Linked DNA regions of Homo sapiens. The protein of the gene in region 1 purifies or fractionates together with the protein of each later gene. This does not show direct contact. Each region holds a gene or a part of one and is shown in the gene's direction. Other genes may lie near its edges.

What was found.
Region 2: the proteins of RDH5 (region 1) and DDI2 purify together in Homo sapiens (affinity purification with mass spectrometry; 3 studies listed by BioGRID and IntAct, with this or other methods). This does not show direct contact.

What each region holds. Positions count from the first base shown.
Region 1 is NC_000012.12:55,715,500-55,723,405, forward strand, and holds the start of RDH5 (retinol dehydrogenase 5), read left to right. Parts: upstream 1-4,893; 5' UTR 4,894-5,018; intron 5,019-5,648; exon of another isoform or gene 5,649-5,653; 5' UTR 5,654-5,685; coding exon 5,686-5,995; intron 5,996-6,189; coding exon 6,190-6,448; intron 6,449-7,906. Other genes in the region: BLOC1S1 (biogenesis of lysosome-related organelles complex 1 subunit 1), read left to right, coding at 553-697, 1,434-1,506, 3,592-3,724, 4,000-4,110. UniProt on the Homo sapiens protein: Catalyzes the oxidation of cis-isomers of retinol, including 11-cis-, 9-cis-, and 13-cis-retinol in an NAD-dependent manner. Has no activity towards all-trans retinal.
Region 2 is NC_000001.11:15,627,406-15,634,673, forward strand, and holds part of DDI2 (protein DDI1 homolog 2), read left to right. Parts: intron 1-2,919; coding exon 2,920-3,156; intron 3,157-6,033; coding exon 6,034-6,160; intron 6,161-7,268. UniProt on the Homo sapiens protein: Aspartic protease that mediates the cleavage of NFE2L1/NRF1 at 'Leu-104', thereby promoting release of NFE2L1/NRF1 from the endoplasmic reticulum membrane.

The sequences.
Region 1 (7,906 bases):
ATGGGTTCGCATTCCTGACCACAAAAGGACAGAGATGAAATTCTACATTCACACAGCCCGCCAAGTTAGCCAAGCTCCCTAGGAGGCTGTCTGAAGTGCCTAAAATGCTTCTCTACAATGATCACCCAGAGCTGAGAGACTTCAGTGGGGTAGTGAGAAGAAAGAGGGTTGGGAGAGACAGGAAAGCATCCTCTCCTTGAGGGAAGGAACTGGGAATCAACTGAGAACCAGCTAGCACTGCCAGGAGGTGAGGAGAGGGAAGGAGAATAATTTAAATGAGGCCAGGGAGCTTCTGCTCCCTCAATTAAACGGTGATAGACGGCCTGACACCACCAGCCCTCGAAGCCTGAGATCCACAGGAAATGTTAAAAACTGGCTTGGCAATATAAGTATTAGAAAATACTTCTTCCAACACTCACCAAAAACTAAGCTCCCAATAAAGAACACTTCACCTGCCCTCCGCAACCCTCTACCTCTCTTCCCCGCCAAGATCTTCACCCAAGGTCTCAAGAGGGCGGTTCCCAACCTCACGTGACACAGCGGTCACGTGACATGGCCCCGGGGAGCCGAGGTGAGCGTTCCAGCTTCCGGAGCCGGAGGGGGCCCGGCGTACCCAGCCCCCAGCCCGACGTGACCATGCTGTCCCGCCTCCTAAAAGAACACCAGGCCAAGCAGAATGAACGCAAGGAGCTGCAGGGTGAGCCAAATATCCTGTCGGCCGTTTTCTCTTCGGCCGCGGCCTAGCTTCAGCCCGGAGCCTGGATCTCGAGTAACTAACCATATCCAGGGAAAGACGCCAGCTAGCGGGCAACGGGCATGGGGGAGAGGGAATTTCAGAGAGGCTTTTTTTGAAACTCCTTTCCCTTGCCAACTGGCTCCGGTCCCTTGGGCAATACTCCGGTCCCCTCGGCAACGCCCCCAATCCCCGACCTGCCGCACCTTAGCCCCGCCCCTGCCCCGGAGCGCCCTGCCTATTGGCCCTGGGAGCCTCTCGTCCTGGCGGCGGGAAGGAGCGACTCTGGAGGGAGGAGGGTGTGGGGAACCCCCCAGAGATGGGCTTCTTGGAGGCCTGAAACCACCGGAACGGAGGTGGGGCACTTGTTTCCTGAGTCCGGGCTGGAAATCTCGGAGTTACCGATTCTGCGGCCGAGTAGTGGAGAAAGAGTGCCTGGGAGTCAGGAGTCCTGGGCGCTGCCGCTGACTTCCTGGCGTCCCTGAGTGAGTCCATTTCCCTCCCAGGGTACCAGTTTCCTCATCTCTAAAATGAAAGAGGTTGCGCTATGTTTTGCAAGGTCCTTTTCAGCTCCGGCATTCAGAGATTAGTTAAGAAATTTCGGCAACTAGCAGAATAGTAATGGATGGGTAGGGAACCTTTAACACTACCCCTCAAAAAACCAAGTCTCCCCTCCAATTCCTTTTCCCCCTCTCCCCAGAAAAGAGGAGGCGAGAGGCTATCACTGCAGCGACCTGCCTGACAGAAGCTTTGGTGGATCACCTCAATGTGGGGTATGGACCTCTTATCAACATCAGTTTCCTCCTTCCCCACCCCGCCCAAGTTTAGGCACTGGCCAGTCTGGCCCTCAAATAGCTGTTGAAGGGGTGGGATGTTCCACTAATTCCCCTATCCTACCCCGCCCCTCCCAGCTCTTTGTAGAGCAACTTGAGTCAACTCTGAGTCCTAGCACTGGGCAAGGGAGGAACAGCTGCCGTGGTTAGAGAAGCAGCCAGATTTCCCCTTCCCCACGTTAACTTCCCTGGCATTTACAACTTGATGCCATCTGCCCACCTCCCTTCACCCTTCCAAGTCCAGCTGTCACTTCAGCAGGAGGGAGAGCACCCTCCTTCATTACAGCTTACCACCCTCTCCTCTGCCTCCCACCCTCTGGCAAGCCTGGGGAGCAGCTGGCAGGAAAGAGATGGCAGAGCTGGTGGTGGTGAGAGTAGAACCTGTTCCGGGAGCTATGGCAGAGCCAGGCTGTCTCTTACCTTCCTATTGGGTCTCTAGGGACCACACCCTGCCCCAGCCCTAAATGAGAATGCAAGTAACAGCCAAAGACTTGGGAAAAAGCAAAGAACATTGTCTCTTGACCCTAAGTGACCCAGAAGCGTGCAGAGATGATGATTTGCTAGTCTGCCTATTGGAAGAAAGGCAGTATGGTACCTTCCACCCCAGGTCAAGTAGAACAGCTCGGTGTGAATCCAGAGACTGAGTCATCCAAGTGAGCCATGCAGGGGCTGGGGTCATCTTTGTTACTCATCTTGGGGGAAGGTTGAGAGAAAGAAAGTTGTGGCTGGGGCCTCTGATCTCCCTTCTCTCCAGGCAGCTCTCTTTACTCAGTGTGAATATAGAAGCAGGTGGTCAATGGGGAAAACCAGAAGTTCAGGAATTCTCAGGGGAGTCTGTTTCAGTTCCTACCCGACCCTTGACAGTGACCCAGCTGTCTCCCAAAAAGAAGGAACAGGGTCTGCCCTCCCATTTCCTCCCTCCCACATTGGCACCTCCTGGGCTCTGCTGTGCCCATCATTTGTGAGATTGGCCCAGGCCTTTCCCTCTTCTTTTCCTTTGCTAGATGCCACCCCACTTTCAGCTTAGAGGGCAGCTAAGCCAAAGCCAGATTAGAAAGGGTTTTGTGTTGCTGCCCACGCCTCCTCTCATTCCCCGGAAAGGAAAACAAAGGCTCAGTCTATCTTGGCCCCTGTCAGGTGTCCTGCCCACTCCCTCAGCCCCCACCAACCCCTTCCCCGCTCCAGCCCCCACACATTCCAGTGGGTGGGGGCACCGGATGTGGAATCTCCTGGCTGAGTAGAGCTCTGGGGTGGGAAGTGAAAAATTCAACAGCCAATAAAGGAGAACAATTATTGCAGGGGTTGGGGAGGGCAAAAAACACTGGCAGAAGGTTGGGGACACCAACCCCATGGTAGTAATGGTAACCACAGCCCATACCTTGATTGAAAAGAAAAACTAGTGCCTAAGGCAGAAGGGAGGGAGAGCATGTGTGTGTGTGTGTGTGTGTGTGTTTGTGTGTGTTCCTTGATCTGTGTGGGCAAAAGCGAAGGCTTGGGAGAGCAACTGAGAGCCGAGAAGAAACCCCTGGGATACCCTCTTTTGACCCAGGGTTCCTGGGGAGGGGGTTTGTACTCCCATCCTAACCCGGCTTCAGGGAGGGGCCCAATTTCCCTCTCCAACTTCTTGCATAGATCCCTAGGCTTCCAATCACTGCCAGATGTGTTCCTCCTGCTGGATTTTCCCAGTTTTTCCATGCCCCTTTTTCCCTCCCAGCTTTTTCCTCAGGGATATCACCCCAGGTTTTCCCTCCCTTCCCCCACTCAGCTGCAGGAACTCCTTTTTGGGGTTTGGAGCTGGTATGTTTCTAGTCAGCTCCGAGCTTGGCTCTCCTGGGAATCCTGGGAGTGAAAGGAAGGAGCTGGGTTTATTTGCATGTACTGGTAGTCATTTGCATCACATCCAAAAATGGCCAAAATTATGAGCCCTGATTCTTGGCTGAACTCCCACTGCTGCAATGGAATATTAGTCCCGGAGACCACCCCCAACTAGCTGGAGCTGATCTCCTCCCTCCTCCAACCCCCCAGTGTGGCCCAGGCCTACATGAACCAGAGAAAGCTGGACCATGAGGTGAAGACCCTACAGGTCCAGGCTGCCCAATTTGCCAAGCAGACAGGCCAGTGGATCGGAATGGTGGAGAACTTCAACCAGGCACTCAAGGTGGGCCATACTCCCTACCTCACCACCCCAATCCTGGGCCCCCATTGGCTGCCTCCAGTCAGGTTACCTCAGGTTTAGGTTAAGGAGGAAGTAGGGTGGTCCCAGAAACCCCATCTATAGCCCCAGTGTCAGAAAAGGTAGAGAAAGAAAGAAAAGCAGTTGGTGGGTCCAAGTAAAGCCTTTTCCAGGAGATGAATAAAACGTATTCCCCAGACTGGAAGCCATACTCTACCCATTCTGATTCCTGGGCTCCCACCTCCTCTCCCCCTTCCCAGGAAATTGGGGATGTGGAGAACTGGGCTCGGAGCATCGAGCTGGACATGCGCACCATTGCCACTGCACTGGAATATGTCTACAAAGGGCAGCTGCAGTCTGCCCCTTCCTAGCCCCTGTTCCCTCCCCCAACCCTATCCCTCCTACCTCACCCGCAGGGGGAAGGAGGGAGGCTGACAAGCCTTGAATAAAACACAAGCCTCCGTTTCTCTGTGGTGTGTTTCAGAGAGCTACTAGCTCCAGTGTCGGGGGTGGGAGTGGAAGGTTCAAAGGTGGTTTCCCTGAGGGACAGGTACCTTTTGGGGAGAGGGTGGAACTAGCTTCCTCTTACTATCCCAACTCTCTTCTCCTCCATGGCCCTTGTGCAGGTGTCTGTTAGGCAAGCAGAGGGTGGGAGTTCCCATCCCTCCTGAGAGAAGGTCCTAGTAGCCCTGCCCCAAGCTTCCTAATTCAGGACTTGTTTCCTACAGAAGAGAAACAAGGCAAGGTACAGGCCTGGTCCCCAGCTCTGGCTTTCTGCCTCTCCACGTGCTCATGGCCTCTCCCAGGCTAACTCTAAGCAGTGTCATGAGTCTGAGCCAGGTGGGAGATTAATTCCTGGGGGCACTTCAGGGCTGAGAAGGGGGAGGAATGACAGGTCCAGTAACCGTTACCAACAGAGCAGTGCAGCTGCCATCCTTGACAGCTCCCTCCTCCTTGGAGACCATGACATAGATGGTCAGGAACCCAGGCTGAGAAAGACAGCCAAGGGGTGGGGGGAGCCTAGGCAAATCTGGCCTCTGCCAAGTCCTGGCTTCAGCCAGGCAAGCTCCAGCCTCCCTGGCTCCTCCTCCTCCTCAGTCCTATCCCCACCCTGTCACACATACACTTAATACGCCTGGCATCCAAGTCCACCCACTCCGGACTTTGGCCTTAGCAGTAGTTAGTGTGGGAGGCTGGGAAGACTGGGAGCAGTCTCTTAAACAAAAGCAAAAGAATAAGCTTCGGGCGCTGTAGTACCTGCCAGCTTTCGCCACAGGAGGTAAGTGGATACTGGGAGCTGGGGGAACTGAGAAGACTAGCCAGATATTACATGTATTGCCAACTCAAAACTTTCAGCTTTTAACATGCTTCCTCACACATTATCCCCTTTGATCCTCCACAACTCTGAGGTGGACCTGGTGGGTCTTAGCCCCACTTGGTAGATGAGAAAATAGGTTGAGAGAGACAGTGAGATGCTCAGTATCACACAGCAAACCTCTTGGCCCTATACATCATTCCAAACACAAGACCCAGGTTGCATATAGAAGGTTCAGTGTCCCTGGTTTAGAAGGAGAGGTGGTGTGAGGCAAGCAAGAAGATGCCTCTGCTGCACTCCAGCCTGGGCGACAGAGTGAGACTCCATCTCAAAAAAAAAAAAAAAAAAAAAAAGATGCCTCTGCTCCATACAGCAGGTCTGTACACAGGATCTGGCTCATGTGGTTTTAGTTAAGTTAGCCACAAATACAGGGTCTGCCCACATCTTTGCTTTGAACAGATGAGCCATGGTTGGCCAATTATCTGCCAACCAGATAATTTCTCAATATGCTCACACCAGATGCTTCCAGCTAGGGAGGGTATTAGGGGAAAGGGCTTGAGGGCCACAGTAAACTGGACAAGTTTTTCTGCCCAGCCTAGGCTGCCACCTGTAGGTCACTTGGGCTCCAGCTATGTGGCTGCCTCTTCTGCTGGGTGCCTTACTCTGGGCAGTGCTGTGGTTGCTCAGGGACCGGCAGAGCCTGCCCGCCAGCAATGCCTTTGTCTTCATCACCGGCTGTGACTCAGGCTTTGGGCGCCTTCTGGCACTGCAGCTGGACCAGAGAGGCTTCCGAGTCCTGGCCAGCTGCCTGACCCCCTCCGGGGCCGAGGACCTGCAGCGGGTGGCCTCCTCCCGCCTCCACACCACCCTGTTGGATATCACTGATCCCCAGAGCGTCCAGCAGGCAGCCAAGTGGGTGGAGATGCACGTTAAGGAAGCAGGTAAGTATGGTAGACCACCAGGAATATGGTGTGGGGTGTCCTGATCCCCACAGTCACCCCAGGAGTCACCTGCAAGGGCTGTGGTAAGCTAAAGGGACAATTTGAGGAGAAGCAGTTTTCAGATGCTCCCAGGAAGAAGAGGGAGCTGTGGGAGTGCCTCACCTACCCCCAGCATCCTTTTCATCTCCCCACAGGGCTTTTTGGTCTGGTGAATAATGCTGGTGTGGCTGGTATCATCGGACCCACACCATGGCTGACCCGGGACGATTTCCAGCGGGTGCTGAATGTGAACACAATGGGTCCCATCGGGGTCACCCTTGCCCTGCTGCCTCTGCTGCAGCAAGCCCGGGGCCGGGTGATCAACATCACCAGCGTCCTGGGTCGCCTGGCAGCCAATGGTGGGGGCTACTGTGTCTCCAAATTTGGCCTGGAGGCCTTCTCTGACAGCCTGAGGTGAGGGGTACAGGGCTCTGGGTTCCAGGACTAACAGCAGCCCACTCAACAAACGTGGGCCAGCAGAGGTGGTTAAGATACAGCACATTGGAATAGTTAAGAAGAGACAGTTTAGGGCTAGACTTCATGGGTTCAATGAAGTCTACCCTTATGTAAGCTTTGTGACCATAAGTAGATTACTTCTCTTTACCCATTTTTAACGTGTTTGTTTTTTGTTTTTTGAGATGGAGTCTTGCTCTGTCGCCAGGCTGGAGTGCAGTGGCGCGATCTTGGCTCACCACAATTTCCACCCCCGGGGTTCAAGCGATTCTCCTGCCTCAGCCTCCCGAGTAGCTGGGACTACAGGCATGCGCCACCATGCCTGGCTTATTTTTGTATTTTTAGTAGAGACAGGGTTTCACTATGTTGGCCAGGTTGGTCTCAAACTCCTGACCTCGTGATCCGCCCACCTCAGCCTCCCAAAGTGCTGGGATTACAGGTGTGAGCCACCACGCCCGGCCTTGCCTCTCGTCTTTAAACAATAAGGTTCAAAGTTCCGTGGGAGCACAAAGGAGACATGATGAGGACAACGGGAGTAGGGCCTGAGTTTTTTTTTGTTTTTTTTTTTTTAAGCGTTTTGCTCTTGTTGCCTAGGCTGGAGTGCAATGGCGAGATCTCAGCTCACTGCAACCCCTGCCTCTCAGGTTCATGTGATTCTCCTGCCTCAGCCTCCCGATTAGCTGGGCTTACAGGCACGTGCCACCACTCCCAGCTAATTTTTTTGTATTTTTAGTAGAGATGGAGTTATACCATGTTGGCCAGGCTGGTTTTGAACTCCTGACCTCAGGTGATCCACCCGACCCGGCCTCCCAAAGTGCTGGGATTACAGGCATGAGCCACCACACACGGCCCAAGGCCTGAGTTCTTAGCAGGAGTATAAGGCGCCTAAGCTTAGTCTACCTTCTAAGGAAGCCTGCGTTTGTCACCATCACTCAGCAAATAACCTGAATGTCTCCTGTCTCTCAGCCTTAATTTTTCAGGCAGCATCATGGGACACATACTTTTAGTTTTGAGACAAGGCCTTGCTCTCACCCAGGGTGGAGTGCAGTGGTGCAGTCACGGCCCACTGAACTTCAAACTCCTAGGCTCAAGCAGCTCAAGCGATATCCGCCTCAGCCTCCTGAGTAGCTGAGACCACAGGCGCGTGCCAGCATGCCTGGCTAGTATTTTTTTACAGATGGGGTCTTGCTGTGGTGACCAGACTTGTCTCCAACTCCCGGCCTCAAGCGATGCTTCCGCCTGGGCCTCCCAAAGTGTTGGGATTATAGGTGTGAGCCACTGCATACTGGAACACATACTTTATACTTGAATTTTTTTTTATCCCCTTCCCTCCTGCTCCTTACCTATACTTGGATTTCTACATCTGTGCCAGGGCAGTGGGATGTATCCCCACTTTCCCCATCAGCTTACCCTCCAGCA
Region 2 (7,268 bases), on another chromosome or scaffold:
AGCAGCTTGACCACCAAGTTGTGGTTCTTTCCTACCAGCTGTGTTAATCACATACAAAGAAACGTTTATCTATCTTTGATGCTGCTTTTATAATAGATGTTTATAGTCTGAACTCTGTGCATTGGGATTTAGTAGGTTCTATGTCACTGAAATAATATGCAGAATTGTGTGGATGTGAATGTGTGTGTGCACTGGATAGAGAGAGGGTCATAGCTTTGTTCAGATACTTGAAGTGGCTCATGATCCACAAAATGATTATAAGGTCTTAATGTGAAACAGCTTGGTGAAATGTGTGGTTTTTTTCCATTCGCTGCCATATTCAGATAGATTTTCTTAAATAGTGTTTAGCCTGTAGGTCACCAGTTTTAAAGTTTATGGTGACAGATGCTGGCAGAGTCTGGGTGATGACAGACTGACTGCAGTTTTAACCACAGTGTTTCCATTCAGCCTGAAACTGGAACTTACTGAGACCATCAAGGACCGGCTCCACCAGATCTGGAAGACATTAGTCCCTTGGGGCCACAGTTAAACTTTAGAAAGAAGTTAAAACTTCTTTCTGAAGAAGTTAAACGTATTTAAACAACTATGACAATCAGTAAAAACCACATCTTCCTTTGGTTAATTTGATGAGATTATTAATTCCGGAATTTACTTCTTTTTTTTTTTCCTCTGCATTGTTGTTTATGGACAAGAGAGCCTGTAACAGGTTGGGGCAGGAGTGATCTGGTCTATTAAGTAAACATGTTTTTGAGAATTATTCTGAAGTGAATGGACTCTCAAGATAATGTATAACAGGAGTGGAGATAAAATTTCTTGACCTGCAAAGAGGGCCCACCCATATATGTTTTTCTGGCTGGTATAGATTAACTACCTCACAGAGATCATCCTCTTCACTTCACCATTTCCTTGGTTGGGAGTTGAAGAAAGTGGCTAGTTGAACCCCTGCTAAAGGGTAGAAATGTTACATCATGAGTTTAAGCATTCTCTTTTTCTATCTGAGGTCCAAAAAGGCTTCAGGATAGTCCCAGACTTGAGACAAGTTTGTTTGTTTTTTGATTTTTTAGTTTATTTAAAATCCTTAATAGTGCAAGGATTGTGCTATAATTCTGATCACTGTGGAATTGCTTAGTGTACTGTCATTTATAACATTAAGCACAGTTATCCTTAAGAAAAGTATTCAGTTGTTCAGACAAGTTTGACCATCAACTATATTTTTTGGAGTTGAAGGAATGTCGATTGACTCAGGCCTAGCCCCTCATTCTGGCTCTCCTTGTTTACTTTTCTCTTTTTCATTTTTCTTTTTTAAATAACAGTTTTATTGAGATAGAATTCATGCATTTAAATGATTTTTTTTTACTATATTCATGAGTTGTGTAACCATCACCACAATCCATTTTAGCGTATTTTCATTACCTTAAAAAGAAATCCTATACCCATTTATAGTCATTTCCCATTTCCCCCTAGTCTCCGCAGCCTAGACAACTACAAGTCTACTTTCTGTCTCTATGTATTTACCTATTTGGAACATTTCATATAAATGGGGTCATACAATATGTGAGTCCGTTGTGTAAGGATTAAAATTCCCTTTTATCTTCCTTTCATTTTAGTAAGGTCAGTTCCACCTGGCATATAGAACCTGGGAGTTGTAGCTTCTAAACTGTGGTAGCTTTTGGTGTATTCAGCACTGAGAACCTATGCAAGTCCCTTTTCTTCTTTCTTTTCTATAAAATGATGACACTGTTTAGCTCCCCAAGGGCATGAGAAGAGTTAGCAGAGATGCACAGATTAAAGTATAAATTCAGAGAACTATTAAGAACTTCCCTGAGCCAATACGTTTAGCACTGACTTGCAGAATTTAGCATCTAATATTTATGCTGCTCACTTGACATATATAATATCCTTTGATCCGGCCGGGCACAGTGGCTCACACTTATAATCCCAGCACTTTGGGAGGCTGAGGTGGGTGGATCACCTGAGGTCAGGATTTCGAGACCAGCCTGGCCAACATGGTGAAATCCCATCTCTACTAAAAATACAAAAAATTAGCTGGGCGTAGTGGCACACGCCTGTAATCCCAGCTACTCGGGAGGCTGAGGCAGGAGAATCACTTGAACCCAGGAGGCAGAGGTTGCAGTGAGGCAAGATCGTGCCATTGCACTCCAATCTGGGCAACAAGGCAAGACTCCGTGTCAAAAAAAAAAAAAAAAAATTCTTTAATCCAAGCGTCAAGGCTGTTTGAACCATATGTCAGACCAGAGTAGGATTTTTCTCAAGAACAACATCCAGACTTATGCAATTATATTTATTGAAACTAGCTTTAATTTTTTTTTTTTTTTTTCTTTTGAGATGAAGTTTCGCTCTTGTTGCCTGGGCTGGAGTGCAATGGCGCCATCTCGGCTCACTGCAACCTCCACCTCCCGGGTTCAGGTGATTCTTCTGCCTCAGCCTCCTGCGTAGCTGGGATTACAGGTGACTGCGACCACGCCCAGCTAATTTTTGTATATTTAGTAGAGACAGAGTTTCACTATGTTGACCAGGCTGGTCTTGAACTTCTGACCTCAGGTGATCCAGCCACCTTGACCTCCCAAAGTGCTGGGATTACAGGTGTGAGCCACCACGCCTGGCCACTTTAATGATTTAAAAACATAAATTAAAAACCTGATGTCTATTGTGAGATATTTTATAAGCTAAAAATTTGGAGTTACTACCATCACCTTCCCCCTATTTTTCTTCTTCTATCGATTCACTCTCAGCCGGCAGTCTTTATATTCAGAGTCATCATGAGAAAGAACAAGGTTAAAGTCTACAGTTACCTTTGCTGCTGTCATATACCATGTATGAGCAAGTGTTCTGCTGTTTCCTTCAAGTGCTTGTTTTTGTAGAGTAATTTGAGTAAACTGAATTGATTTTCCCCAACAGACTTACCCCGAATAGATTTCAGTAGTATAGCTGTGCCTGGCACATCAAGTCCCCGGCAGCGCCAGCCACCAGGAACACAGCAGTCCCACTCATCTCCTGGAGAAATAACTTCATCTCCTCAGGGCTTGGACAATCCAGCCTTGCTCCGAGATATGTTGCTGGCCAACCCGCATGAGCTGTCCTTGCTGAAGGAACGCAATCCACCCCTGGCAGAAGCTCTGCTCAGTGGAGACCTTGGTAAGCTTATAAATTTGGAAGGCTATTAGGCTGGCCTGAGGTGAAGAAGCTGTGTCATAGCAAATGTGAAGAGACTCAAGCGACACTGTGTCACATGATTTATTGAACATACCAGTTTTTTCTCTGTGAGAGGTAAATTAGTGCTAAAGTCAAAGGCTGAGTTACTTGGAAACAGCAATAGAGTTTTAGCAGTGAAATCCATCTAGGCCACCCCCCTTGGTTTACTTTTTGTTTTCCTCATTGTTTTTGGCAGCAGATAACCTAGGTACTGATTTTTGTTTGTTTCTTTGTTTTTTCTTTGAGACGGAGTCTTGCTCTTTCGCCCAGGCTGGAGTGTAGTGGTGCAATCTTGGCTCACTGCCAGCTCCGCCTCCCGGGTTCATGCCATTCTCCTGCCTCAGCCTCCCAAGTAGCTGGGACTACAGGCGCATGCTGCCACACCTGGCTAATTTTTTGTATTTTTATTAGAGACGGGGTTTCACCGTGTTAGCCAGGATGGTCTCGATCTCCTGACCTCGTGATCCGCCTGCCTCGGCCTCCCAAAGTGCTGGGATTACAGGTGTGAGCCACCATGCCCAGCCAGTACCGATATTTTAACCTTAGTTAGATCTTCAATTAAAGAGATCATCAACAAGCCAGCTGATGCCAGCTGATGCCAGGAAGGTTCAGTGCCCTGTATGGCAAAATGGAATCACCATAACCTCAGTCCACTCCAAGTTATTTTTTGTATTTTTTGTAGAGATGGAGTTTTGCCATGTTGTCCAGGCTGCTTTCGAATTCTTGGGCTCAAGCAGTCTGCCTGCCTTGGCCTCCCAAAGTGCTGGGATTACAGGCATGAGCAGTTGCACCCAGCTAACTTGTAGCCATCTTTATGAATCGAGTTTTCTCTGTAAATTACTCTCATTTTACTCTTGGGTTTATGAGTTAAATTGGGTTAAGTCTAAAAACATAACAGACACTTAATGACTCATTCCTCAATTGACTGTCTTTAAATTGGCAATCTTTACCTTAAGCGAAGTACTCAGATTTTAAATATACAATTCCTTGAGTTTTGACAAACTCCTGTAACCCCAATCAAGACACAGGACATTTCTCTCACTCCAGAAAGTTCCACTGTGTTGCTTTCTAGTCAATCTCCTCTCCTTATAGGTTACTACTGTTTTGATAATCTTATGGTTTAGTTTCCCGTATTTTTAAACTTCATGTATATGGAATAATAGAGTGTCTGCTCTTTCGTGTTAGGCTTTGTTTTTTTTTTTCTTGAGACGGAGTTTCACTCTGTCTCCCAGGCTGGAGTGCAGTGGCGCGATCTCTGCTCACTGCAACCTTCGCCTCCTGGGTTCAAGCGATTCTCCCGCCTCAGTGTCCCAAGTAGCTGGGACTACAGGCGTGCACCACCACACCCGGCTAATTTTTGTATTATTAGTAGAGATTGGGTTTCACCATGTTGGCCAGGCTGGTCTCAAACTCCTGACCTCGTGATCCACCCGTCTCGGCTTCCCAAAGTACTGAGATTACAGGCGTGAGCCACCACTCCCAGCTCGTGTTAGGCTTTTCACTCAACTTAATGCTTTTTAGATCCATCTGTATTGTGTGCATTAGTAGTTCAGATAACCATTGTCATAATATCTTTTAATCTCTTATATCAGCATATCTAATCACCAAAGATGGTGATGATGGGGCATTTAAGTTTGCACACTTAAATGTACCACCATTTAAGAAATTGCAAAATAGGCCGGGCACGGTGGATCACCTGAGGTCAGGAGTTCAAGACCAGCCTGGCCAACATGGTGAAACCCAGTCTCTACTAATAATACAAAAATTAGCTGGACGTGGTGGCAGGTACCTGTAATCCCAGCTACTTGGGAGGCTGAGGCAGGAGAATCACTTGAACCTGGGAGGTGGAGGTTGTAGTGAGCCAAGATTGCGCCATTGCTCCCCAGCCTGGGCAACAAGAGCGAAACTCCATCTCAAAAAAAAAGAAATTGCAAAATAGGTTCTTGTTGTAACATACATCTTATAGCAAGCAGTGTTTTCTCTACTAATTTTCCTGCCTATTAATTCATCAGAACACACACAAAATATAGGTAGACTAAAAATAGTTTATACTTAATGTATCTGGCTTAAGGCAGGGCATGTTATAAAAGAAATGAAACTAGAAGAGGAAAAGGAGATTATATAATGCTGTATTTTGTTTCTAGGTAGTAGGATAATGAGAACAATGAGGAATGGAGGAGTGGAGACATTGATCTGCCACATGGTCACTCCCCACCATTTTAAATTGGAAAGTTGTTACCTCTGAGTAGAAACAATATGATAGATAACTTCTTATAAAAAATTTTTGCAAATACTTTTTTTTTTTTTTTTTTTAAAAAAAAAAAAACAGGGTCTCACCATGTCACCCAGGCTGGAGTGTGTGGTGCGATCACAGCTCACTGCATCCTCGACCTCCTGGGCTCAGGCCATCCCCCCACCCTTGAACCCCCATCCAACAGTAGCTGGGACTACAGGCATGCACCACCACGCCCAACTAATTTTTATATTTTTTGTAGAGACAAGGTCTTGCTATGTTGCCCAGGCTGGTCTCGAACTCCTAGGCTCAAACGGTCCTCCCACCTCAGCCTCCCAAAGTGTCGAGATTATAGGCATGAGCTACCACACCCAGCCACAAATACTTTCTTTACACTGAATTTAAATGATGAAATAGCCTTGACTCAGAGAACAGAAAGTAAATGTAATTGCTCATTTTAAATAAGCTTTAGGCATCCTCTCTGCATCTCTTACAGATGTAGTTTGATAAATTGTTTGGTGTGGAAAAGTACTGATAAACGTTGAAAATATAGTGATATTTAAGATTTTTCTCCCTTATTTTTGTAGAGAAATTTTCTAGAGTCCTGGTGGAGCAGCAGCAGGACCGAGCCCGGAGAGAGCAAGAAAGGATTCGTCTGTTTTCTGCTGATCCCTTTGACCTTGAAGCTCAGGCAAAGATAGAAGAAGATATAAGGTAAAGACCTGTTCATCTAAAGAACAAAACTTAGAGACTCCAGATTTCCCAGACTGCAGGTTATCTGACATTGGTTGGGCATCTGCTTGGAGGTAGCTTCTCTGTTTTGCAGTTGAGATAGTAACCTCAGTCTTTTAGGTTAGTCTCTCCTCTTTCATTTTCTATGCATTTCGATTTGACATGACAAAGATATAGGTGCTTAGTTTAATGACTTTCTTTCTAAAATTTTAAGGAGGACTCCCTGACTAGCAGACAGAGCATCATAACACAGCTTTAGATAAATGACCCCCGGACTGAGCAGAAGCCACCATCTGGTGAGACCACAAGGCTGGTTGCATATTACATGGGCTGATTTGACTCTCTTTCTTTAGACATATTGTATAAGTCCTGATTAAATCCAGGGCTTAAACATGATTGGATTAGAGAGGGCTCTGCGCCGATGGAACGTTGGTAGTCCTAAGTCTGTTTTCCTGCTGCATTTCTTGTACTGGCCTCAGTGGATAAACTGAATGCTGGACATGTTTCCAGCTCTCAGTTTCTGTAATGCGGTGGTTCTCACCTGGGGCTATAGTAAAATCACATGAGAAACTTTTAAAAATGCAGATGCTTGGACTCTTCTCCCAAATCTGATGAATCAGAATTGTCGGGCATGGAGCTCAAGCAAGGACAGTGACGCTGTTCCGGCCTCAGTCACACTGATAGTCACAAGCAAGATTCTGTTCAGTCATTCTCTGAAAAAAAGGACAGCTGCTTTTCCTGCCTCAAGTCAGTTTTTGTTGCTAATTGTGAAGAACTTAGTATAACTAAGAAGAAGATAACAGCAACGATACTTACTACACTTAGACTGCTTGGCCTTTTAGGGACCGTGTCATCATTCCGGTTACTTAAATGAAGCCTAACTTGGTCATTGTATTACACTATCTATCAACTTAGAAATTAAATCATGCTTTTTTAAACTTCTTATTCTTTTTATCTTTTTTTTTTTGAGACAAGGTCTCACTCTGTCACCCAGGCTAGAGTGCAGTGGCACAATCACAGCTCATTGCAGCCTGGACCTCCCCGAGACTGAGGTGTTCTCACCTTAGCCTCCCGAATAGCTGGGAATACA